7 linked regions of the Homo sapiens genome follow. The protein of the gene in region 3 interacts with the protein of the main gene of each other region in a biochemical or structural test. Each region holds a gene or a part of one and is shown on either strand. Other genes may lie near its edges.

Evidence for each region.
Region 1: the proteins of EIF2AK2 (region 3) and STAU2 form a complex in vitro, tested with the Homo sapiens proteins (one study listed by BioGRID).
Region 2: the proteins of EIF2AK2 (region 3) and ZNF346 form a complex in vitro, tested with the Homo sapiens proteins (one study listed by BioGRID).
Region 4: the proteins of EIF2AK2 (region 3) and STAT1 form a complex in vitro, tested with the Homo sapiens proteins (one study listed by BioGRID).
Region 5: the proteins of EIF2AK2 (region 3) and FTSJ3 form a complex in vitro, tested with the Homo sapiens proteins (one study listed by BioGRID).
Region 6: the proteins of EIF2AK2 (region 3) and G3BP1 form a complex in vitro, tested with the Homo sapiens proteins (one study listed by BioGRID).
Region 7: the proteins of EIF2AK2 (region 3) and DUS2 form a complex in vitro, tested with the Homo sapiens proteins (one study listed by BioGRID).

Annotation. Positions count from the first base shown.
Region 1 is NC_000008.11:73,551,341-73,554,840, forward strand, and holds part of STAU2 (double-stranded RNA-binding protein Staufen homolog 2), read right to left. Parts: intron 980-3,500; coding exon 672-979; coding exon of another isoform or gene 666-671; exon of another isoform or gene 1-665. UniProt on the Homo sapiens protein: RNA-binding protein required for the microtubule-dependent transport of neuronal RNA from the cell body to the dendrite.
Region 2 is NC_000005.10:177,046,696-177,050,195, reverse strand, and holds part of ZNF346 (zinc finger protein 346), read right to left. Parts: intron 1-3,500.
Region 3 is NC_000002.12:37,150,481-37,153,980, forward strand, and holds part of EIF2AK2 (interferon-induced, double-stranded RNA-activated protein kinase), read right to left. Parts: intron 1-3,500.
Region 4 is NC_000002.12:190,972,672-190,976,171, forward strand, and holds part of STAT1 (signal transducer and activator of transcription 1-alpha/beta), read right to left. Parts: intron 3,241-3,500; coding exon of another isoform or gene 3,217-3,240; coding exon 3,141-3,216; coding exon of another isoform or gene 3,137-3,140; exon of another isoform or gene 2,867-3,136; intron 2,262-2,866; coding exon 2,159-2,261; intron 1-2,158. UniProt on the Homo sapiens protein: Signal transducer and transcription activator that mediates cellular responses to interferons (IFNs), cytokine KITLG/SCF and other cytokines and other growth factors.
Region 5 is NC_000017.11:63,821,799-63,824,663, forward strand, and holds part of FTSJ3 (pre-rRNA 2'-O-ribose RNA methyltransferase FTSJ3), read right to left. Parts: coding exon 2,839-2,865; intron 2,614-2,838; coding exon 2,533-2,613; intron 2,442-2,532; coding exon 2,286-2,441; intron 2,155-2,285; coding exon 2,019-2,154; intron 965-2,018; coding exon of another isoform or gene 875-964; exon of another isoform or gene 791-874; intron 371-790; coding exon 186-370; intron 46-185; coding exon 1-45.
Region 6 is NC_000005.10:151,809,954-151,813,285, reverse strand, and holds the end of G3BP1 (ras GTPase-activating protein-binding protein 1), read right to left. Parts: 3' UTR 501-3,332; downstream 1-500. UniProt on the Homo sapiens protein: Protein involved in various processes, such as stress granule formation and innate immunity. Plays an essential role in stress granule formation.
Region 7 is NC_000016.10:68,057,784-68,061,283, reverse strand, and holds part of DUS2 (tRNA-dihydrouridine(20) synthase [NAD(P)+]-like), read right to left. Parts: intron 219-3,500; coding exon 171-218; intron 1-170. UniProt on the Homo sapiens protein: Catalyzes the NADPH-dependent synthesis of dihydrouridine, a modified base found in the D-loop of most tRNAs. Specifically modifies U20 in cytoplasmic tRNAs. Activity depends on the presence of guanosine at position 19 in the tRNA substrate.

The sequences.
Region 1 (3,500 bases), on a different chromosome or scaffold from region 3:
TAGACTACCCAGTGAAACAGAATTGTTGGTACTATCTGAGGCAGGTGCTACCCTCCCTAGTCAGTTCAAAACATGATCCAGTAAAACAAATACACATTGTTATGCCTCAAACAACTATAAAGCATTTCATTATTCTTCAAATATCATGTTTAATTAACTCCTAAGGTAATAGACTTCTAGAATGTTGTATCTTAATGGTGTACCTGAATCAATACTAGCAATAGAATGCAAAATTCAAAATTGCTATAAAGGTAAAATCATCATAAAAAGAAACTCAATCCTTATGTAAAAAAAGGGAGAACTGAGTGTGAAATACTAACACCAAATGTCTGAAGGCAGAATTTTTGTTTGTGGAAGACAGAGCGAAGAGATAGATGCACCTAATCAAGACCAAATAGAAGACAGTGAAGAATATGAAAAATGCTTAAAAAAGAAGAAGGAAAATGGAGAAGAGACAGGCAGCAAAAGAATTACTAGATAGATCAAAAATAAGAGAAAATGAGGCATGTGCATATGGCTTTTTTGTCTGTCCTTTGTGTTCCTAAATAACTTAAAACGTAAGTGGCATGTAGGCCATACTAGCAGGCAAGAATGAGCCTTGTGATGTATACAGATGAAGAATCTGAGGCTAATGAATTGTTTTGTTTTTTGTTTTTGCTTTTAATTCATACCTGAAAGCCTTGAATCCTTGCTAAATATTCCAGTTGTTTTGAAGGTTGTACTGGAGAACAAGGGGGAGTAGGAGAACTTCCTTTTAAACCTATGGCTTCAGCTGTAGAAGATGTTCCATTCATAAGGAGTTCCCTGGCAATTGTAGCTGAACTATTCGATGTGGGAGATATACTGAAGAAAGAGCTTGAAGGTTGGTTCATATCTTTGGGTGACAAATAGCCTAGAGTAGTGCCAGAGATTACTTTGTGGCGGCTGGCTTCCATCTCTTGATAAACATCAGGAGACAAATGAAGAATTCCTTTTGGAGCTATAAATAAAATGAAGAACACTGTTATTACACTTAAAATAACCGAAATAGAAACATAGCATTATTAACTCAATGGCTTTACTTGGTGTAGTAACAAAGAAATGAGAAACACTGCCAAACAAGTATCTTTGTCATACTGTAGAGGCAGTTGCAGCTTCTATTGAAAGGTGAATAATGTCTATTTCAATTTTCCTAAAATTAGAGGTTTAAAAACATCCAAAAAAAGTGGTTTCAATGGGACTTATGTGTAGTAGTGAAGCTATAAAGGGACAAGGGAAACTGAATGTGTGGAAGTATAATGGGGCAGAAAATCAGGAATGTGCAGTGTCTTCACCCTGCAATTTAATATTTTATATCTCATAAAAGAGGCATGAAACCCCAACACATACAGCAATTGAGGCACATCAGGTAAAATAAAGGCTGAATCAGTCCAAATTTCTTTGGAGGTACAAACGCATGTATTCAACAGCCTAGTGATCCTCTCACCTCCACAAGGATGTCCCACAGACAACTCTAACTCACGAACACATAAAAAAGCAAATGGGTATCATCTCAAAACTAGCACTGTCTCTAACTTGCTTTGCTCATACTACCATGTGGCTGCTCATGACCCAACCTAGACTCCTGGCAACCATCTCTGATTTACTCATAAGCAAGTAGTTATCGTGTTGCTCAAACATCTCAAGAATATGACCATTGTAGGGATTATCTAGTGCATTAATTCAAGCCAGGCCATGGACAGGTTCTGAAATCAAGAGGAGTGGGGGCTATGTCATTAGTTGATGGAGCTTAAACCATATTAGAGAAGCACTTTCCTTTGACTATCATTTGTCTCAGAGAAGTTTCAAACCACATTTCAAACTGCTTATTCTTATCTTTTGATCAGGTATCAATAACTCTCAAATGATATTATCTTTTAAAATTATTGGTAAGTCACCACTCATAAAGAATGTGCTCTGAGAGACACAACTTAATTTCCTGTTCTTGCCCCTTCCTCTCCTGATGCTAACCTTCTGATTCAAGCTTTCAATGTTTCTCTGCTGCTAGTATTCTCAGTGTCCATTTCCCAAAATGTGTTCTATAACATGGTCCCCAAATAAAATGGTTCCATAAATAAAAACTGAAAATAATGCAAATTACATAATACAAATGCCTTTTGTGAAATTAAAAATACACATTAGCATAGTGAAGAATCAGAAAACTCAAAGAACAAAAATCTATTCGACTTGGTTTAACTCAGGATTCCTGAGTTTACTTTTTGTCCAAGCCTTTAACATAGCATGAATAAAACAGCTAACACTTTGGGAAATGCTGGAGGCTAGCCCAACTCTCCTCTGACTCAGTCATTTCCAATGACCTGTCTTTGAGATTGATGACCTTTTCTTCTGCTTGACATTGTCTGCTATTGAATCCCTCTGGTAACTTTTTCAGTTTATGGTATTTTTTAGCTCCATGCTTTCTGCTTGCTACTTTTTAAAGTTTTCTTTTTGTTGAAATTCTCACTTTTTTTCATGCATTGTTCACCAGACCTCAGTGGGAATGTTTGTAAGGATTACTTTGAATTCTCTGTCAGGTAAATCACATATCTCCATTTCATTAGGGTCAGTTTCTGGAGCTTTATCTCATTCCTTTATTTAGGAAATGTTTTCCTGTTTCTTCATTTTTCCTTGATTCTCTGTGTTTGTGTCTGCACAAACTGGCCTCATACTGGAGAAGATCCTAACCAATCAGCCTGGACAGAGATTCTGGAGGCCTCTCAAACTTTTATGCTAGTCTAATCCACTTTCTTTGTTCTTGGCAGTCCCCAGGCATCAGTCCCTTGCTTGTCTCAGTCCCATCAGAGCTCTGAGACAAGCAAGACTGAAGCCAATTCTTCAGGCAACTCCCAGATAAGTTGGGTCATTGGATACATGGTGCTCCTCTTTGCCTCTCCAGGAAAAAGCTGAAAGCTGAAGCTTTTCAACAGTTAGCTTTGTGCTGGGCTGAGCAGGGGATGGTTACAGTGACCACCACCACCAGCCACCTCTTTCTTCATTGGCCCCGGGGTTGCTAAAATATGCCATGTCCTGTCAGCACTCTGAGACTGGCCAGACAGAAGCCAGTCCTCTGGGTAGCCCCAGAAAAGCTAAGGCATTGGATGCGTGGTATACATCTTTCCCCTTCTAGGCAGAAAGAAGCTGGGAGCTGGGGGTGGAGGGTGGTTGTCCTGATTGTATGGCCCTGCACTGTGAGGAGGGATTATGGCATGAGGGTATCTTAAATTTCCCTGCCAATTAAGATCTGGCTGGTTTCATGCTCACCCGGCATACAGGAGCCTCTTAACTGGTTTCTGGATTTCTCACAAAGAAAAATTGCCTATAAATTATTGTTGAATTGCTGTGTTCCAGGGCTTCCTATTCTACCATCTTGCCAAGGCTAGAACATTCTCTTACTTAAAGGTCTTTCACCAGTTTATCAGTTACACTATAGAACCCAAACTCCTTAGGATAACCTAGGAAGCCCTTAATAATCTGGCTCCTAC
Region 2 (3,500 bases), on a different chromosome or scaffold from region 3:
GCCTTTTAGGCTACATTGCATATTATAGGCTGAGTAGAGAGAAAAGAGGACCATTAACATTTAGTTATGCGTTTTGCTCACATCTGTAATCCTAGCACTTCAGGAGGCCAAGGCAGGCGGATCACGAGGTCAAGAGATTGAGGCCATCCTGGCCAACATGGTGAAACCCTGTCTCTCCTAAAAATTCAAAAATTAGCTGGGCATGGTGGCGTGTGCCTGTAATCCCAGCTACTTGGGAGGCTGAGGTAGGAGAATCACTTCAACCCAGGAGGCGGAGGTTGCAGCGAGCCGAGATTGCGCCACTGCACTCCAGCCTGGGCGACAAGAGCGAAACTCCACCTCAAAAAAAAAAAAATTAGTGATGTGTTTTCTACATATATTTTCTCCTTTGGTCCTCAGAACTACCCCAATGAGGTAGGTATCACTTTGCCACATTATTCAGAAAAACTGAGGCTCAGATGAGTGAAGTGGCTTGCCCAAGGTGACCCAGCCAGTGAGTGAAGCCAGGTCTGTGACCCTAAAGCCTGTGCTCTCTTTGCTATGCCAGGCTGCCAGTGTGGCAAGAAGACCTGAAGGCTATAGCTCTTACTTACGCCTTCAGAAAACATCCCTGATTCTGGCCAATGAATTCAGTGAATCAGAGCCTGGTATAGGCATACATGCGAGCCTCTTGTGCATCAACATATGGCTTGATGTTGACTCTAGGCTGCGCTGCTGCCTCATAAAGCGGATGCCACGACTCACTAACAAGTCCATGTGGCTGAAATGGTGTCAACCTAGCAACTACTGCTTTAAAAATGTGGGGCCCAGAAGCCCCCACCAGTGGTGGAGGACTGATGGGGCTCAGCAGGACTCACAGATGATATGTCTCAGATGCTCTTCCATACCTGTATCACTTCAACTGGGGAAGTTTTGAGGATTTTGGGCAAGCCAGAAGAAATTTGCTGGCCTTTCCCACAATGGTTTTTCTAGTATAGGGAATTTCAGTTTCTCTGCTTGTTGATTTTGTTTCAGCAAGTCATCAAAAAAGTAATGTACATGTTGTAGAATATTTTATAATATGAGAAAATATTCTGTTTGTGGTGTTGAGTGTAAAAAAAGCAAGTTACAGGCCAGGCGCAATGGCTTGTGCCTGTAATCCCAGCACTTTGGGAGGTTGAGGCAGGCAGATAATCTGACTCAGGAGTTCTGAGACCAGCCTGGCCAACATGGTGAAACTCAGTCTCTACTAAAAAAATACAAAATTAGCTGGGTGTGGTAGTGCATGCCTGTAATCCCAGCTACTCAGGAGGCTGAGGCAGGAGAACTGCTTGAACAGGTGGGCGGAGGCTGCAGTAAGCTGAGATTGCGCCATTGCACTCCACTCTGAGCGAAAAGAGTGAAATTCTGTCTCAAAAAAAAAAAAAAAGAAAAAAAAAGAAAAAAACAAGTTACACATCAATCTGCTTCTTATGTCCTCAATTTTATAGAACAACAACAAACGCATAGGTGACAGCATGGAAAAAAGATCAAAAGCACAGAGAGTAGAGTGTGTTTCACTATTTTCCGACTTTTCCTTTCTTTTTTTTCTTTTTGAGATGGAGTTTTGCTCTTGTTGCCCAGGCTGGAGTGCAATGGCACGATCTTGACTCACTGCAACCTCTGCCTCTGGGGTTCAAGCGATTCTCCTGCTTCAGTCTCCGAAGTAGATGGGATTACAGGCATACGCCACCATGCCCAGCTAATTTTGTATTTTTAGTAGAGATGGGGTTTCTCCATGTTGGTCAGGCTGGTCTCAAACTCCTGACCTCAGGTGATCCACCCGCCTCAGCCTCCCAAAGTGCTGGAATTACAGGCGTGAGCACCCGGCCTACTATTTTCCAACTTTTCTGTAATGAATGTAGATTTTTAACATCAGAAAAGAGGTATAATGGTTGTTAAGAGAGAACGGTCATTCTTTGAGATACTGAACAGAAGCATCAGAAGTGAAAGTGTAAGTAAGTCTAGAACCATTTAATGCGCATCCAATAAAATGAGGGATATAGAGTCTGTTCTCAGAAAATAACCTGAAATGTAATAAAGTGTTCTACAGAGATGTTCACTGTAGTGTTATCTGTAACACCAAAAAGTGGGGGGTGGGGAGATTAAATGTTCAGCATTAGACGAATATTAAATGTAGTACGATGCAGTCACTAAAAATGCTTATAAAGAATTTTTTAATAACATGGGGAAATACAAATGTCATATTAAATAAAAAACATATAGAAGGCAATTGTATGGCCAGGTGCGGTGGCTCATGTCTGTAATCCTAGCACTTTGGGAGGCAGAAGCGGGTGAATCACCTGAGATCAGGAGTTAGAGATCTGCCTGGCCAACATGCCGAAACCCCATCGCTAGTAATACAAAAATTAGGCAGGGCACGGTGGCTCATGTCTGTAATCCCAGAACTTTGGGAGGCTGAGGTGGGTGGATCACCTGAGGTCAGGAATTCAAGACCAGCCTGAGCAATATGTTGAAACCCTGTCTCTATTAAAAATGCAAAAATTAACTGGGCGTGGTGGCAGGTGCCGGTAGTCCCAGCTACTCAGGAGGCTGAGTCAAGAGAATTGCTTGAACCCAGAGGGTGGAGGTTGCAGTGAGTCAAGGTTGCACCACTGCACTCCAGTCTAGGCGACAGCAAAACTCCATCTCAAAAAAACAAAAAAACAACATTAGCCGGGTATGGTGGTGGGCACCTGTAATCCCAGCTATTCAGCAGGTGGAAGCAGGAGAATTGCTTGAACCTGGTGGGGCAGAGGTTGCAGTGAGCTGAGATTGCGCCATTTCACTCCAGCTTGGGCAAAAGAGGGAGACTCCATCTCAAAAAAAAAAAAAAACAAAAAACAAACAAACAAAAAAGGCAATTGTACATACCATACGGTAAGATCATTGTTTGAGGCCAGGAGTTCAAGACCAGCCTGGGCAACATAGTGAAACCCCGTCTCTAATAAAAACACAAAAATTGGCCAGGCGCGGTGGCACGCGCCTGTAGTCCCAGCTACTTGGGAGGCTGAGGCAGAAGAATCGCTTGAACCCAGGAGGCGGAGGTTGCAGTGAGCCGAGATCGTGCCACTGCACTCCAGCCTGGGTGACAGAGCAAGACTTCATCTCAAAATAAATAAATAAATAAATAAATAAATAAATAAAAATAAATAAAAAAATTTTAAAAACCCCACACGTGTAATCCATATGTGCATACTGGTATTTTAAAACATCACCAACATATTAACAGTATTTCTCTCTTGGTGTAGGATTTAGGTGATATTTTACTTTCTTCTTTGTATCTTTTGCAATTGTTTGAAGTGGAATTATTCATAATGAGTATGCATTGTTTTTATAAAAACATGAAAGTTATTTAAAGTAGTCTATGTTTATATGCACATATACACGGAGTTAACCTAGATATACACAAAACGAATATACACACAGATATACAAAGATACATATAACAATAAGATTATAGGAGAAACAGATTATAGGAG
Region 3 (3,500 bases):
AGCAGAATTTTAAAGGTCATGGAACAATCATCATTTTCCCCATTGATTATTAAGATTGCTTTGCATGGCCATTTTTATGGTCCCACAGTACCATGCAAAATGAGGACCGCTTGTAGCCGGGAACAACACAATGCTTGCTTCAGGGAAAACTGATTTACACAGAAGTGACTAGTTGAGTGGTAAACTATTTTGGAAATAATCTACATATCTAAGTGCTGAAATATATTTCTCTTCTCCCCACGTATTCTTCAAATAAAAAAGTTTTAATACTTTAAAAAAGTGAAGTGTATGAAATCATGAAGGATTTAACTGTATGGATATAGATTTCTCTATGAAATCCCAAAAATCTCCCCTCTGAATTTTGCAGAAATCAATTTTAGGACAATTTAACCACTGAGTAAATTAAGACCTCTGTTTATAGGTCTCACTGGACCAAGTCTATAGCAATGATTTAAATTATAAACAAAATTTAGAGGATATAAAATATAAATGTACAAGCGAAAACTATAAAACTCTTAGAAGAAAATATGGGGGAGATCTTCATGACTTTGGATTTGGTGATAAAATTTTAGCTATGACAGCAAGAGCACAAGCAACAAAAGAAAACAGAGATAAATTGGGCTTCATCAAAATTTAAAACGTTTGTGTATCAAAGGACACTATGAAGAAAATAAAATGACAATCTACAGAATAGAATATTTACAAATCATATATCTGATGAGGGTCTAGTAACCAGATATATAAAGAATTCTTACAGCTCAACAACAAAAAGACAAACCACCCAATTAAAAAAATAGGCAAAGGGGCTTGAACAGACATCTCTCCAAAGAAAATATGTAAATCGCCAATAAGCACATGAAAAGATACTCAACATCATGAGTCATTAAAGAAATGGAATTCAAAACCACAACTAAATACAATTTCACACCCACTAGTATGGCAATAATAATAATAATCAGGAAATAATAAAAAATAAGTGTTGGTGAGGACATGGAGAAACTGGACCCCTCAAACACTGCTGATAAGAATGTAAAACAATACGGTTGCTGGGGTTCCTCTAGAAGGTAAACTTTGAATTATCATAAAACTCAGCAATTCCATTCCTAGATATTTCAAAGAATTGGAAAACAGGTTTCCAAACAAAGACTTAGACAGGAATGTACATAGCAGCACTGTTAACAATAGCCAAAAGGTGGAAACAAACCAAGTGTCCATCAACGGATAAATGGTGAACAAAATGTGAAATATATCTACACAGCGGAATATTATTCAGTCACAAAAAAAATGAAGTACTGATACATGCTACAACATGGATAGGCCAGGCGCCGTGGCTCATGCCTGTACTCCCAACACTCTGGGAGGCCGAGGCGGGCGGATCACGAGGTCAGGAGATCGAGACCACGGTGAAACCTCGTCTCCACTAAAAATACAAAAAATTAGCCGGGCGCGGTGGCGCGCGCCTGTAGTCCCAGCTACTCGCGAGGCTGAGGCAGGAGAATGGCGTGAACCCGGCAGGCGGAGCTTGCAGTGAGCTGAGATCGCGCCACTGCACTCCAGCCTGCGCGACAGAGCGAAGACTCCATCTCAAAAAACAACAACCACAACAACAAAAACATGGATAAACCTCAAAAACATTATGCAAAATGAAAAATCCAGACATAAAATTTCACACATATTGTATGATTCCCATTTATATGAAACTTCCAGAATCGGTAAATCCATAAAGGCAGAAATCAGATCCTGTAAACCTCTTAATTCTTCTTGGAAAGCTCTTTTGATCTTCTTTCTTCCAGGGCCACTCTTTCTGTTTTTTGTTTTTGAGACAGGGCCTCACTCTGTTGCCCAGGCTGGAGTGCAGTAACATGATCTCAGCTCACTGCAGCATCTGCCTCCCAGGTTCAAGCAATTTTCCTGCCACAGCCTCTCAAGTAGCTGGGACTATGGGACTACAGGTGCCCACCACCACGCCCAGCTAATTTTTGTATTTTTGAGGTTTCCCGGTGTTGGCCAGGCTGGTCTCCAACTCCTGAACTCCAGTGATCCACCAGCCTCAGCCTCCCAAAGTGCTGGGATTACAGGTGTGGGCCACCACGCCTGGCCGGGCCACTCTTTTTAACACACCTTAATCTTTGTAGCTCTAAATGCTGGCATGGCCCAACAATCCTCTTCTCTTCACTCTATACTTTCTCCTTAAGGTGATTTCTTTCACGTCCATGATTTCAGTGATCATCTATACGCCATTACCTCTAAAGTTTACATATTCCTTATGAACCGCTCTGAGTTTCAGATCTCTCTATCCAAATTCTCCACTTGAACATCTTGAACGAACTTTAAACTCAAAATATCCTGTACTGCATGTATGATCTTCTCCCAAGCTGGTTTGAAGTTTCCTTTCACAGGAAATGAGTCCACCATCTATCCAAGTCTGAAAGCCATCAATCTGGGAGGCATCCTTGACATTTCCTCTCCCTGCCTTCTAATCTATAACTAAGTCCTGTCACCAAAATCTTTCTACTTCTCAAAGATGTCTACACTTACCATCCTAGTTCAAGCCAACACCACCTCATTCCTGGATTGCTGTGAGAATCTCAGAACCAGTTCCGACAGCTACTTCAATTCCTTCTCTACCCTGCAACCATTGTGATTTTTTTTTTTATGTTTTAAAATTGTGATAAAATACACATAACATGAAATGTACTATTTTTCAATGTATTAATTCCCTGCCTTTAAGTACATTCACAATGTTGTGTAGCCGCCACCACATCCACATCCACAACTCTTAATCTTTCCAAACAGAAAGTGTGTACCCATTAAACAGTAACTCCCCATTTCCCAGTCCTTTCAGTCTCTGCTAATCTTTTTTTTTTTTTTTTTTTTTGAGACAGGGTCTCGCTCTGTTGCCCAGGCTGGAGTGCAGTGGTGTGATCACAGCTTACTGCAGCCTTGAACTCTGGGCTCAAGCGATCCTCCCACCTCAGCCTCCCGAGTAGCTGGGACCATAGGCGTGGGCATGCCTGGTTAATTTTTTATATTTTCTAATCTCTCTTCTGTCTCTGTAAATTTGCCTGTTCTAGGTACCTCATATAAGTGGAATCAAACAGTATTTGTCCTTTTGTGTCTGGTTATTTCACTTAGCAAAATGTCTTCAAGGTTCATCTATGTTGTAGCATATGTCAGAATTCCTTTCCTTTTTAAGGCTGAATAATATTCCGTTGTGTATATATACCATATTTTGTTCATGCATTCATTTATGAATGGACACTGGTTATTTCAACCTTTTGGCCATCTTGAATCATGCTGCTGTGAACACTGGTATACATATATCTGTTTAAGTCCCTACTTCTGAATATTTGTGGTATATAAGTGGAATTGAATCACATGATAATTCTGTTTAACTTTGTGATGAATCACCAAATTGTTTTCCACAGTGGTTACACCCATGTTACATTTCCACCAGCAATGCACGAGGGTTCTAATTTCTCCACATCCTCACCATCACT
Region 4 (3,500 bases), about 150 Mb from region 3:
TGATTCAACCGTTGTCTAACCAGTGCCGTGCCTATATTATGAACTCTTTTTCTTTTCTTTTCTTTTTTTTTTTTTATATTATAGCCTCTTTTAGCTCTTTAAGTCTTCTATGGGTTTAATGGGAGGCTTTAGTGGTGTATAGAGGGTGTGTGTGTGTGTGTGTGTGTGTGTGTGTGTGTGTGAAATGGATTTATTTTATTCTACAAATGAAATGAATAAAATCACCTGAAATGGAACGGAATGGCTACAGCGAGTGTCCAAAGACCACAAAACTGTTTCCTGACATGTGCTTAGCATATTTAAATTGTTCTCACAGTATCATCCTGAGAGCAGAGAGAGCAGTCCAACTGCTCCACAGGACTGCAGAGAGGGAACCAATCCATCTATTTTCTCAATAATGGTGATGACAGAGATGGAATGCTGATTGCCAAATCCCAAACACATACGGGCCTCTCACCCAAAGGCCATGATGCCTTTGTCTTAATAACAGAATAAACCCAATCCTGTACAAACAGCTTCTTCAGGGTGCATGTTTTGAATGGGGCAAAGATTAGCTTTTTGTGGGAGGCTTTCCAGGATACCGGACAAAAGCATGCACTAGAGACTCACTAGGTAGATTCAAATATTCTTTCTACCATTTACTAACTGCTTGATCTTAGTCAAGTTACATAAAAGGGGCTGTGTGGGGAGGAGGGGCTCTGTTCCCACATCTGTCAAAGTAGGAATAACAATAACACCTAACTCAGAAGGTGGCTGTGAGGACTGAATGAGTTACTACCTGTGAAGTACATGGTATACTGTAGGTGCTTAATGTCACCTATTAATGGTGGTGGTGATGATGATGTAATTTGCTCAGGAACAACAAAGGAGGTATAAAAAATCCCCCCATTTTACAGTTCCTGTGATGTAACATATTTTCTGAATAGGGCTTTATATTTATTCCATTTTTGTGCCAGGCCTATAGCAGTGTTGGGAGCGAAACTCTAGCAGGATCCTTCTTACATGCAGAAAAGGTTCATTTTACACTTGCCAATAGGAATGAAACTATTTCGCTGCCACAATAGCTAACTGTTTTTCTAAATGGCCTATTTCGTCAACAACAATCAGGAAAGTGTAGGAAGGTACAATCTCTAATGATTGTAGCCCGTGCTTAAGGTGAGGAAAAAAGTCAAAAAATTACACATGAGAAACCTGAATCCAGGCAGATCTTACTGAGGCCTTATCATCGCATTCCCCAAATGTCTGAAGAGTGACGCCCTCTCATTCTCGCTCACCTTTCCCCTCCCTGCCTTCCTCTCTTTGTTGAGCACCTACTTTTTGCCAGGCACCGGGTATACAGTAAGGAAGAAAGGCCAGTAATAACTCAGGATATTTTTTGGAAGCATTAAATAAATTTTTAAAAATGAGCTGGAATAGCTCCATGTGGAAAAGAGCTTAAAATTAAACAGCATCAGCAAAAATCCAGCCAAGCAAGCACAATCTTTAAGAGGAAGGATTTTAGGCTGAAAGGCAAACAATACTAGTTGATATACTAAAAAAGCACCCTCCAAAAGGAAGATGTTCCCTTTTGTGGACAATCATATTCCCATTTCTATCACGAATCTCATTAACTATTTCACTCCTTGAACCTTTTACTCTTGGCAAGCCCTTCACAGCCCCAGGAGCTACTTGTACAAATTAGCTCTCAAATATAAGGCAGATGAAGTAATCTCATTGCTGCTAAAGTATAATTCTCTCTAATTACTGTAACTACCAAGCGTTAGTCCCTCCCTTTCTAAAAATAACACTCCCTCCCCTAGACACAGTGATGAAATCGCATTCCGAAGAAAAACATTTGCTTATCAAAGAAATCTTAGTTCCTTAATATATGAAATTTCTACATGGACAACTTTAAAGGGGAGAGGAGGAAACCTGAATATTAGAAATGTCACTTGTTTTTTGGAAGGTGCTGAATGCGAGGAATAAAAATCCCACTGATGATGTAGGTGGTTTAAATCCAGCAGCTCCAACTTGTCATGGCTCATCTGAGCACTGCACTCTCCTTGGCTCCGCCAGGGCTCCCTCCCGCAGACAGGCCCGGGATCTGCCATGGTGCGCTCCCTGCCTCTGAGCACACACACTTATTGAGAGCTACACACAGGCCAGCCGTGGTACTCACCATACTGTCGAATTCTACAGAGCCCACTATCCGAGACACCTCGTCAAACTCCTCAGGAGACATGGGGAGCAGGTTGTCTGTGGTCTGAAGTCTAGAAGGGTGACTAAAATGGGGAAAAAGAAAAGAGCAATGTCAACATCTGAGTGATGAAAGCACTAGTGCATACTTACACACTTTATCTTTTGTCTGTAATTGAATTATCACGTTATATTTTTATTTTGGGTAAGTGCATACACTTGTAAAATACATTTGCAAAAGTACAGCTCATGGGAGGCTCATGTCCCCAGCCCAGCCCCTTGGGAAATGTTTCACACTCCAGGGATGTGATAAGCAATAGCCAGACTGGAATCTGTGCCGCTTCTGCCTGGGTAAGCCTAGGTGTGAGCATGTGCGGTGCACTACCCTGAGATGACAATGCCTCGTGGCTTACCCTGGACAGAAAAGCACCAGAGAAATGTCTGGGGAGTCCCTCATCCCTACCTTGAGGTTTGAATGCAGATAAAGCTGCTCCACACAGTGTTTTTACATGAAGGCTACATCCATTCACCCCAAGACAGTGCTGCAGGCCAAATAACTGACAATGACATTTCCAAAATTTTTTCTACCTTTTATAAAATGAAACAACAAAATCAAAGCAAGTGGAGACAGTGTATCTCAATCATTACTTTGGCCTTTTCTAGATTGAAAAGAACTACTTTCCCACTCTGATCAACTTTTGCTCATTTTATTTATACTTTTTCAAAGGGTATCAGTTTTGGGAAAATTTATATACCTTAAATACAAATTTGGTTTTTGGCTTTTTTTTTTTTTTTAAAGTAGTAAAATGCTGATAGGCAGTAACACGGGGATCTCAACAAGTTCAGCTGTGATGGCGATAGCAATTACAATGGAAAAGTAAAATACAAGCATCTTCAACAGGCCCCAGCCAGGAGCAAGGCTGGCTTGAGGTTTGTAAACATGTCACTCTTCTGTGTTCACTTACACTTCAGACACAGAAATCAACTCAGTCTTGATATATCCAGTTCCTTTAGGGCCATCAAGTTCCATTGGCTCTGGTGCTAGAAATAAACACATTGTGTACGCTTTCCATCAACCGAAATTCCATCAGAATACAACATCAACTTTTCGGGGGGATTAAAGTTCTACTGTGTTTCTAGACAGCTTAGCCTCCTAAAACTTTAAGGAGCTATAACCTCCCTGCCTGAGTCACCTAAAATTCTAGTGGGAATGCAGAAACAACGAGAAGAAGGATCTGAATTCAGTCTGGAAATAAGCTAGTGTTCAGCAGGACACTAGCTAGGAGCTTTCTCTTTACACAACTTGAAATCTTACAAGAAGTCTG
Region 5 (2,865 bases), on a different chromosome or scaffold from region 3:
TCCTCCTCCTCCTCTTTATCATCTTGCACTTCAGTAAGTCGCATACTGTAGACCCAAAGGAAAGTAGGGGGCTCAGAGACCCAGATTGCCTGGAGCCCTTGCTGCCCTACTCAGGCTCTGGTAGTACCCACCCTAACACTTCCTCAGAGTGGCAGCATTCCCTTTGGTGCACACGTGCCCCTTACCGCTTTTGGTCCCTTAGACCCTGATGTCCCCTGACTCCTGCCAGCTCCTCTGGATCCAGGTCACTATCCAGAGATGTGTCATCACCGTCGTCCTCAACATCTGACACATAGATATCATCCCTTGGCAGATCGGACAGAAATGTGTCTGCTGCACTCATATCCCCTTGTGTTACTTCCTCTAATAACTGAAGTGTAACAGAAACAAAGGTAAACTATTTAAAAGGAAATATACTGTTTTTTTTTCTGTGTCCCTCACCTCAGTCTATGCTCAGCAACACTAGAAAGAACACTGGCAAATCCATTATCCTTTCACAGATGGGAAAGCTCAGATCCAGGGTAGTGAATGGCCTGTTTACAACATCCCGTTCTAGGCTGGGTTACTGATCTATCCCACTCAGCTGTCTTGTCTCAGTGGTATCACAAATAGGTCTTAAGGAAGGTACCTACAGCCCACATAGCACCAAATCTTAACATATTCTACAACACTGGTTTTCCTTTAAAAATTATTCTCAGACAGCATCTCAATCATCTCCTGAGAATACCGTCTACACAGTTTGTTTCCACTGAATAAAAGGGGCCCAGCCAACATACATCCAACAAAACTGTTCCACTTAAACCAATTGTCAGAACCTTTTATTTTCCTCATGGTAAAGATACTAGGCTGGGTATGGTGGCTCACACCTGTAATCTCAGCATTTTGGGAGGCTGAGGCAGGAGGATTGCTTGATGCCAGGAGTTTGAGGCTGCAGTGAGTCATGATGGCACCACTGAACTCCAGCCTGGGTGACAAAACAAGATCTTGTCTCAAAGGAAAAACTCCAACTACTATTTCTTGAGTGTTTATCACATATGAGGGATTACACCTATCTTTTTTTATTCCTCACCAAAAACTCTAGTAGGTAGGTTCTATTATTGTTTTACAGATGAGGAAACTGAGGCAGCAAGGATAAGTGGTAGTCAGCTCAGTCACTTCACAAAGCTCCAGGTGGTAGAGCTGGGAAGGAAACCTGAGCCTGTGTCTGCTCTAGGGCCACCATGCTCTACTGCCCTCCTGTACAACAAAGATGACCTGATTATGACACTCCCACACATAAGCCACAAAAGTTCATTTTGTTTGTGACCCTGATTTTGTCAGGAAAAACATGTTCTTCAGTATTCAGTGGAAGTACCCTAATGCGAGTGCTCACTTGGTCTCAATGAACTAAAGAATGCTGCTCCCCTCTGAGGGAGATCCTCTATTCATCTGTGCTTGAAACTCAAGTAACCTGGCAGCATCTACTATAACCTAAGTTCTTTTCTGATGTTCTAGTTCTTCAAGAATAAATCTATCAGCCGGGCGCGGTGGCTCACGCCTGTAATCCCAGCACTTTGGGAGGCCGAGGTGGGCAGATCACGAGGTCAGGAGGTCGAGACCATCCTGGCTAACACGGTGAAACCCCGTCTCTACTAAAAATACAAAAAATTAGCCAGGCGTGGTGGTAGGCGCCTGTTGTCCCAGCTACTCGGGAGGCTGAGGCAGGAGAATGGTGTGAACCTGGAAGGTGGAGCTTGCAGTGGGCCGAGATCGTGCCACTGCACTCCAGCCTGGGCAACAGAGCAAGACTCCGTCTCAAAAAAAAAAAAAATAAATCTATCACACTCATCTATCTACCTAACTCATCCTTTTTGGTTTATGTTTCTTTGTGGCCTTATACTCACCAAGGCACCCTGTGGTGAAGACAGCAACCACAGCCTATCGTTCGGCAACCTAAAAAGACATTCAACACCCCCCACCTCCAAACACCCAAACAGATCCTTCTGTCTCCTAAACCTGCACCCCCAATGCCGCCTCACCTGGTGACCCCGGATGGTGCTCAAGGAGAACATGCCAGTCTCCCCCTCGTCTGCAATGGAAACCCCAGGCAGATCCATCTTCAGCTCCACACGCTCCCGCTGCTTTCTCTGCTCACGCAACAGCTTCTTTTTCTTCCTGAGGGGGTGGATTGAGGGAGTAAAACCGGCCCAGCTCCAAAGTTTCTATCCATGCCTTGCATTTTCTTCTCCCATCTTCACACAGTCCCTGCGTTGGGGAACTCCAAGCTCTACCCCAGCTCCTTTCACCTCTTCAATTCCGCCACCTCCTGGGCCTTCATTTCTGCCAAGGTCTGGTTCAGTTGTTCCTCCTCCTCCTCTTCCTCCTCCTCCTTAGAGGGCTGCTTTGTGGTTCCAGCTGTTGAGTCCTCCTCATCACCTTCATCTTCCTCTCCAGAGCTGAGGCTGGCAAAACAGTCCCAAGAGTTGGGTTATTTTCCCAGACTTTTCCCCTGGACACCCAGTCCACACCTGCCTCGCTGCGTTCTCTCCTCACCTGATGTCCAGTGCCTTTGCTTGTTCTTTCAGCTTCTTGGCCACATATCGCCGAAGTTTTGTTCTCCAGTTTAGTAGCGACCTGCCCCAGAGATACTATTACTGATCTTGCCATCTCCCTCTTTGTCCCCGCCCCCTTCTGTTTTAGGCTCACTACCCACCTTTCGGGCTTCGGCTACATAAATCAAAAGGCTCAGGCCCCCATCCCAAACCTTTAGCACAGCAATATCCTCTTCCCAGAGGTCCAACATCATGGCCTTTCCCTGCCTCCAGGGCTCCTGGCCCCCGTGCCTACCCCACTCCATACCTGAGCTCCTTGCGCCCCAACACTCTG
Region 6 (3,332 bases), on a different chromosome or scaffold from region 3:
CATCTGACAAACTGGATAAAACATGTCTTCAACTGCTTTGGACTTGAAATGGACAAAGTGAAACACAAAATGACCAAAACAAAAACCTAATACTTTTAAGCCCTCTTGATATTCCAAGACTGCCAAAGGCTATTCCACTCTCATTGTCTAGATCAGCATCACAGTAGACCTGTTGAATAAAAATCACCTTATCTAGAATTGATGCAAGTTACTGCAATGAATAACTTGTAGTACATTTAGGGTGAAGAGTGGCTGGTGCATGATTAGAATACTCAGTGACTGTTAACTTGGCAAGTGTTCAAACATACCACAGTGCTTCCAAATCACAAATCACTTGGTCCTCTCTCCCAGGACAGGCCACTTACGGAGACCTTATTCTCAAACTTGACTGGCCTAGGGAAGCTATAGAAAGAGACCAAATTACCTTGCAGCCATAGCTGTGAACACACTGGAGCCATACTTGAAAACTGGCGATGAACAGGACAACAGAGAGATACCAATTCATTGCTAAAACATTCCAAAATGAGTTTATTACAAAATAAATGCACAGTCACTGGAGGAAGGGGTTATTTTATTTATACACTCGATCTTAGATTTAGCAACCTTTCATTTTGACTCAGGATTCATTGACTAACTTAAGATGGGCTAGTTTCTGCCAACAGGGCAAGAGTGTGCAATCTCAGAGTCCCACCCAACCTGGCCAAAGCAAATGACTTCTGCATTAATTAGAAGTCATCCCCAAAGGACTTGCCCTTCATGTTTTCCCCATTTTGCCCGCTTAGATACTTGCACAAAAGATGCACCCTTTGTCTTTAAAGTTCCCTAGTTCGATGTTTAGGCAGAAGAGCAAATCCCAGGTTATTATTCTGCAAATAATTTTACATTTCCTTTATTCCAAAAATGTAGCTACCAACTTAAATGTATCATGACACACAAGGGGTAAAAGTTAGATACGAACTTCCAATAGCTAGGGCATGTTTCCTGAAACACTATCGTTCATTAGTACATTATTCAAGAAGTTACCTTAACCCCAAAGAATCTAAGAAGGGCACTGTGTAATTCTTCAGGTCACAATGCCAGCATGACTGTGGAGTCTGTTACAGGTAAGACAATCACAAGTTACAATGCTGTGATTCCAAATACTTTGGGGATGTAGAAAATGTGCTTAGCTGGGCAGCATGAATTAGCTCAGCAACATAGTGCTATGATGGAAGAGGTTCAAGATGATTCATACTTTCACGCCAGACCAGAAGTCACAAGCTCACATAGCGGCAACTCTGACAGCTAGCCAAAGTAGAAGATACTTCTAAAAAGCAGCCTGGGGACATTTTAATTAATTGGCCTGGAAAATCAGGTCAGAATTACAAAGTTCCTCATCCTTATGAAGAAGAAAATGTGATAGTATGTCTTTTATATGGAAATTTCTTTGTATATATGTATAAACTTGGTATGGCCTTAATGCTGCAGTTAAGGATTTGTCTGGCTACCACCTTAAGCAGCGTGTTAAGCAATCGCTTCCTTAATGTAACATTTTTACTTCTTACTGGACACTCAACCTTGAACAACTAATTCCCTTTTGCCCCTTACTCTTCCCCCCTTTTTTTGCATGAAGTCACAAAAGTTATGGCAGTTATTTTTTGGCTTGTAAAAAAAAAAAATCTATTTCTGCAGTTTGAAGATGGAATGTAAAATTTCTGTGAAACATGTATATAAAAGTATATTTATTGAACCATCCATATACACATATCCATGCTGATTCCAATGGAAAAAAATTAAAGTTTTCTGAAATTTTCTGTGGTTAACTCATAATTATTACTATTTAACCAACTTTATATGCAAGAACTTCCAATTACCCCAGGGAGAAACCTATGTATGACCTGGAAAACATCTCACTTTAGACAAGGCTTTATGTCGAGAAATGAGAATTCATTTGTTCATTCAAGAAGTATTTATTGATAGGTGCTAGGCAAGATACAAAGATGACTCAGACACAGATCCTGCCCATAAGGAGCTTACAGTCTAATAGGGGAGAGAGAACACATACATGGAATACATGGTCAGAACTATGTTTCAGTAAGATGAATCTAACATTGTGTATAAAGTAGGCTGGAGTAAGAGGTTAAGTGAAGCTGAGAGACTACTGAAATTACATAGGTGAGGAAGAAAGACGGGAAAGACTTGAGGTAGAACTGACAGGACTTAGCTGAAGACTGGATGTGGGGAATAACAAAAATGGAAGCAGATGACTCAGACTTTAGCATGGATGATGTCATGAACTGAAAGAAGGAACAAGTTTTTGCAAAGAAATGAAAATTTCATATAAAATTCTTCTGCATAGAAACAAACTGTCTGGGATATACTAGGCACAATCAGGAAGAAATGGCTAGTTACCCAGACCAATGGAAGCACCTCAAACTGGCCAGTGACTTCCTCCCCCTTATATATCCATCCCCCCAAATTTCCCAACAATTTTCTCCACTGAAATGGTATAGTGCCTAAAATTTATTAAATTCAAGGTCTATCTCCAGACATGGCCTCCCTTGGGAATGAAAACAGAAATATATTAAGTTATTCAACTCAGTAAGTTTCATCTAAAGACTCTAGTTATGAGTCACTGTACCTTCTGGTGGAATACAGAGATGAACTCCCTAGTCCTTATCTTCTAGGAGCTTACAGTCTAGTAAAGTAGTAAAACAGATAATGTAATTCTAATTCTAGACTGAAGGGGTAAGTTATGAACTACGAGAAAGACAAAGTGCTCTAGAACAGTTTCAGAAATGAAGGTTGGAACAGGACCTCAAACAAGAGGGAAAATGTGGAAAGTAGATGAGAATGGATTTGTTCCTCACTCCAAATTCTGGACAGATCAGCCCCAAAACGGGGCTACTCCCCATTCCTGTTGAAATTTTTTCTTAGGAAAAAATATAGCTCTTGTACTGATCTTTTAAAAAATTACTTACATGGCAAGAGATCAGAGGAAAGGGGGGATTGTAGATCTCAGTGGACCTTCGGGGAAGACAGAAGGCACTTGAAGCCAAGGAATCACAATGCCTGGCTTATCGGGAGGACCCTCAGTGTTTTAGCAAGGCTGGAGCATCACTTCCATGAAGAGTGGGAGAAATAACTCAAAAGTAATATTAAGACCTTGATATAAACATGGCATTGCCAGGCACTAAACAGGGTACACGCCTAAGACCAAATTGCTGCCCCCTAGGAGCTTACAGTTACAACAATACAAGGTGGAAAAAGCACCACAATGTACAGAATGCAAAATGCTGAAGTATTTAGGAGAAATTACAGCTGAGTTTCAGCTATTAACACATTAGGATACC
Region 7 (3,500 bases), on a different chromosome or scaffold from region 3:
ACTTAGCTGCATGTCAAAATCACTGGAAAATTTTTTGGAAATCGCTAGGCCTCAGGGAGAGAAACTGGGTGGACATCAGTAAATCTGGTATTGGTGGAAGGAGGCGTTCTAGACAATTCTAGTTTGGAGCTGTGTTTGAGGACCCCTGCTTTCACTCGTGGAGGACTTACCTTCTCAATCTTGTCAGGGTCTGACAGCAGGGCAGCTCCCATTCCTCCCTAAGGAGAAACACACAAAAGGTCTTCTTACATCTGGGAGACACTATGGCCCTCTCCATGGGATGGGGTCTGGCAACTGAGCGTCACCCCGGCACTCACTTCCAAGGGACCAAGGCCCACTGGCAACCGGCACTTCTTTTAAACAAGTAGGAGGGCAGCAGTATCTGTGCCCATAACATCTGGGACTGAAGTGTGATAATTTTTTTTCTTTTTTTTTTGAGACAGATTCTCGCTCTGTCACCCAGGCTGGAGTGCAGTGGCGCAATCTCGGCTCACTGCAACCTCCACCTCCCCAGTTCAAGTGATTCTCCTTCCTCTGCATCCTGAGTAGCCAGGATTGCAGGCATGCACAACCACACCTAGCTAATTTTTTAATATATTTTTAGTAGAGACAGGGTTTCACCATGTTGGCCAGGCTGGCCAGACCAGAGTGATGACTTTTAAAATGTATAGGCTGGGCGTGGTGGCTCACGCCTGTAATTCCAGCACTTTGGGAAGCTGAGTCAGGTGGATTACCTGAGGTCAGGAGTTCGAGACCAGCCTGGCTAACATGGTGAAATCCAGTCTCTACCAAAAATACAAAAATTAGCCGAGCATGGAGGTGTGTGCCTGTAGTCCCAGCTATTCAGGAGGCTGAGGCAGAAGAATTGCTTGAACCCAGGAGGTGGAGGTTGCAGTGAGCCGAGATTGCACCACTGTACCCTAGCCTGGTTGACAGGGCAAGACTCCATCTCAAACAAACAAACAAACAAAAAAGTCATCATTCTGATCCCCTTGGTAAATCCCACAAATCTATCTAGAGTGGGCTATATAAAACTTATTTTTCAAGACTGCCCACTCCCTAACCCAGGTCTCAGTGTCTTAATAAACTAAATCCCACCATCTCCCAAGCCCTTAAAAAACAATGAATCATCCTTCATTTGAAATAAGATCAAATGTGCCTTCTTCCTATCATACTCAATGCTTGCATAGGCATCAACACCACCAGCAAAGCTACTAAGGTGCACACAACTTACAAACCTTGTCTAGGCCCTTCTCTTCTGCCAGCAACAATGTCCCAGCCCAGACCCATGCCCAACTCTAACCAAAGCCCCAGGAAATGGAAACTACCAACCCACACAACCACTTGAATCTTGATAATAGTAATGGTGGTTGCTTTTTATTGTGAGTTACTGGTGATTTTCCTGCTCTTTTCTGTACTTGTCTATATTTTCCAACTTCTAGACAATGGTATTAATTACTTTAATAATGGAGGAGGGGGATCTTTAAAAATCTGAATCCATTAAGAGTGAGATGAAGGCAAAAAAAACAATTCCAATAAATATATGCTGCCAGTATAAAGATTACATACTAATGAATGCTCACAGAATGTGCTCAGAAGGTGTAAGTTCAGTTATTACACTTTAATTTCATGTTTAAGGATGATAAATTGGAATCAGAGAGAACATTAAACCACCACAGACTCGGCCAGGCTGAGCCTGGATTTTAAAGAAGAATGGGTAGACTGGAAAATCCACCAAGCCTGGACTACATTGGTCATAAAAGAAACCTTGAAGGCCTTGAGGAAGCCCCAGCACTCCCCCTGGCTCCATCTGTCCTTCCACTCACACGTATCCAGCCCTTCCTTATAGAATCACAGGATCTAAAATTCAGTTTCACTGCCCCTTCCACAATAATAGCTTTCTCAACAATGGAATTTCCTTCCTTCCTTCGTTTCTATTAAACTTACTTGCTTTTTTGAATAGGTAAAACATTCAAAATTTGAGAGATTCAAATGGGTAACGAGTAAGAAGTCTCCCTGCCTAAGGAATGGGAAATGTTTCAATCTATACTTTTTTTTTTCTTTTGTTTCTCATATAGGGTCTCACTCTGTGGCCCAGGGTGGACTGCAGTGGCGTGATCTTGGCTCACTGCGACCTCTGCCTCTGGGGTTCATGCAATTCTCCTGCCTCAGCCTCCCAAGTAGCTGGGACTACAGGTGTCTGCCACCATACCTGGCTAATTTTTATATTTTTTGGTAGACATGCGGTTTCATTCTTTTGGCCAGACTGGTCTTGAACTCCTGACCTCAGGTGATCTGCCCGCCTCAGCCTCCCAAAGTGCTGGGATTACAGGCATCGGCCACCAAGCCCAGCCTCAATCTATGCTTTTTATCTGGCTTCAATTTTTGAACCATGAGAACACAGCAGATATTCAGCTAGTATGTACATGTGTGGCATATTGATTGGTGTCTCTTCTGACTGATCAGTGCCAGTGCTGTGCCAGTTAATTATTTTCAGTAGCACCCCTGTAATGGGAATTTACTACCTATGCATAACCAGATAAAAACTTAAGTTTCCTTCCCCAGAGGAAATCAATGTTACTAGTTTCTTCTGTGTCTCTCCAAAAATCTTCCCTGAATAAACAAATAAATATATATAATCATTCCCTATCCTCCTTATATAAATGGTATATACCACCTTACCCTGCCTCCAGATCATTTTAACTCTGCTCCTCACATAATTTAGGAACACAAAGAAGTAATCAGAAAACAGCAAAACCACCGGGCACAGTGGCTCACACCTGTAATCCCTGCACTTTGGGAGGCCGAGGCAGGTGGATCACGAGGTCAGGCGTTCAAGACCAGCCTGGCTAACATGGCAAAACCCCGTCTCTACTAAAAATACAAAAAAAATTAGTTGGGTGTGGTGGCGGGCACCTGTAGTCCCAGCTACTCAGGAGGCTGAGGCAGGAGAATCGCTTGAACCCAGGAGACGGAGGTTGCAGTCAGCCGAGATTGCACTGCTACACTCCAGCCTGCACGACAAGAGTGAGACTCCATCTCAAAAAAAAAAAAAAGCCCAAAGATACCTAAAGTCCAAGTCCAGCTGATCTTTTACCAACCAAGGTTTTCGATCCTGCAGTCTGCTTCTTCTTCATCATCTCCCACTCGACAAACCTCTGGTCAAATCGGGCTACTCAGGCCTCCCTGTGTCTACCTCATATTCATCCCCAGGCCCCTGCTTATACCACACCCTCTGCTTACAGGGTCCTAAATCTCAGCCCAAGGACAATATTTCCCTATCAAATTCCAAGTTTAAAGGCTGCCTTTCCACTCCCTTCTCTGGGCTACCATAGTCTGATCTCTTCTGATACGACAATGGGAACATTTACACTGCATCCACTTTTTTTTTTTTTTTTTTTTTGAGACAGATTTTCGCTCTTGTCACCCAGGCTGCAGTGCAGTGGCATGATCTTGCTCACTGCAACCTCCGTCTCCCAGGTTCAAGCGATTCTCCTGCC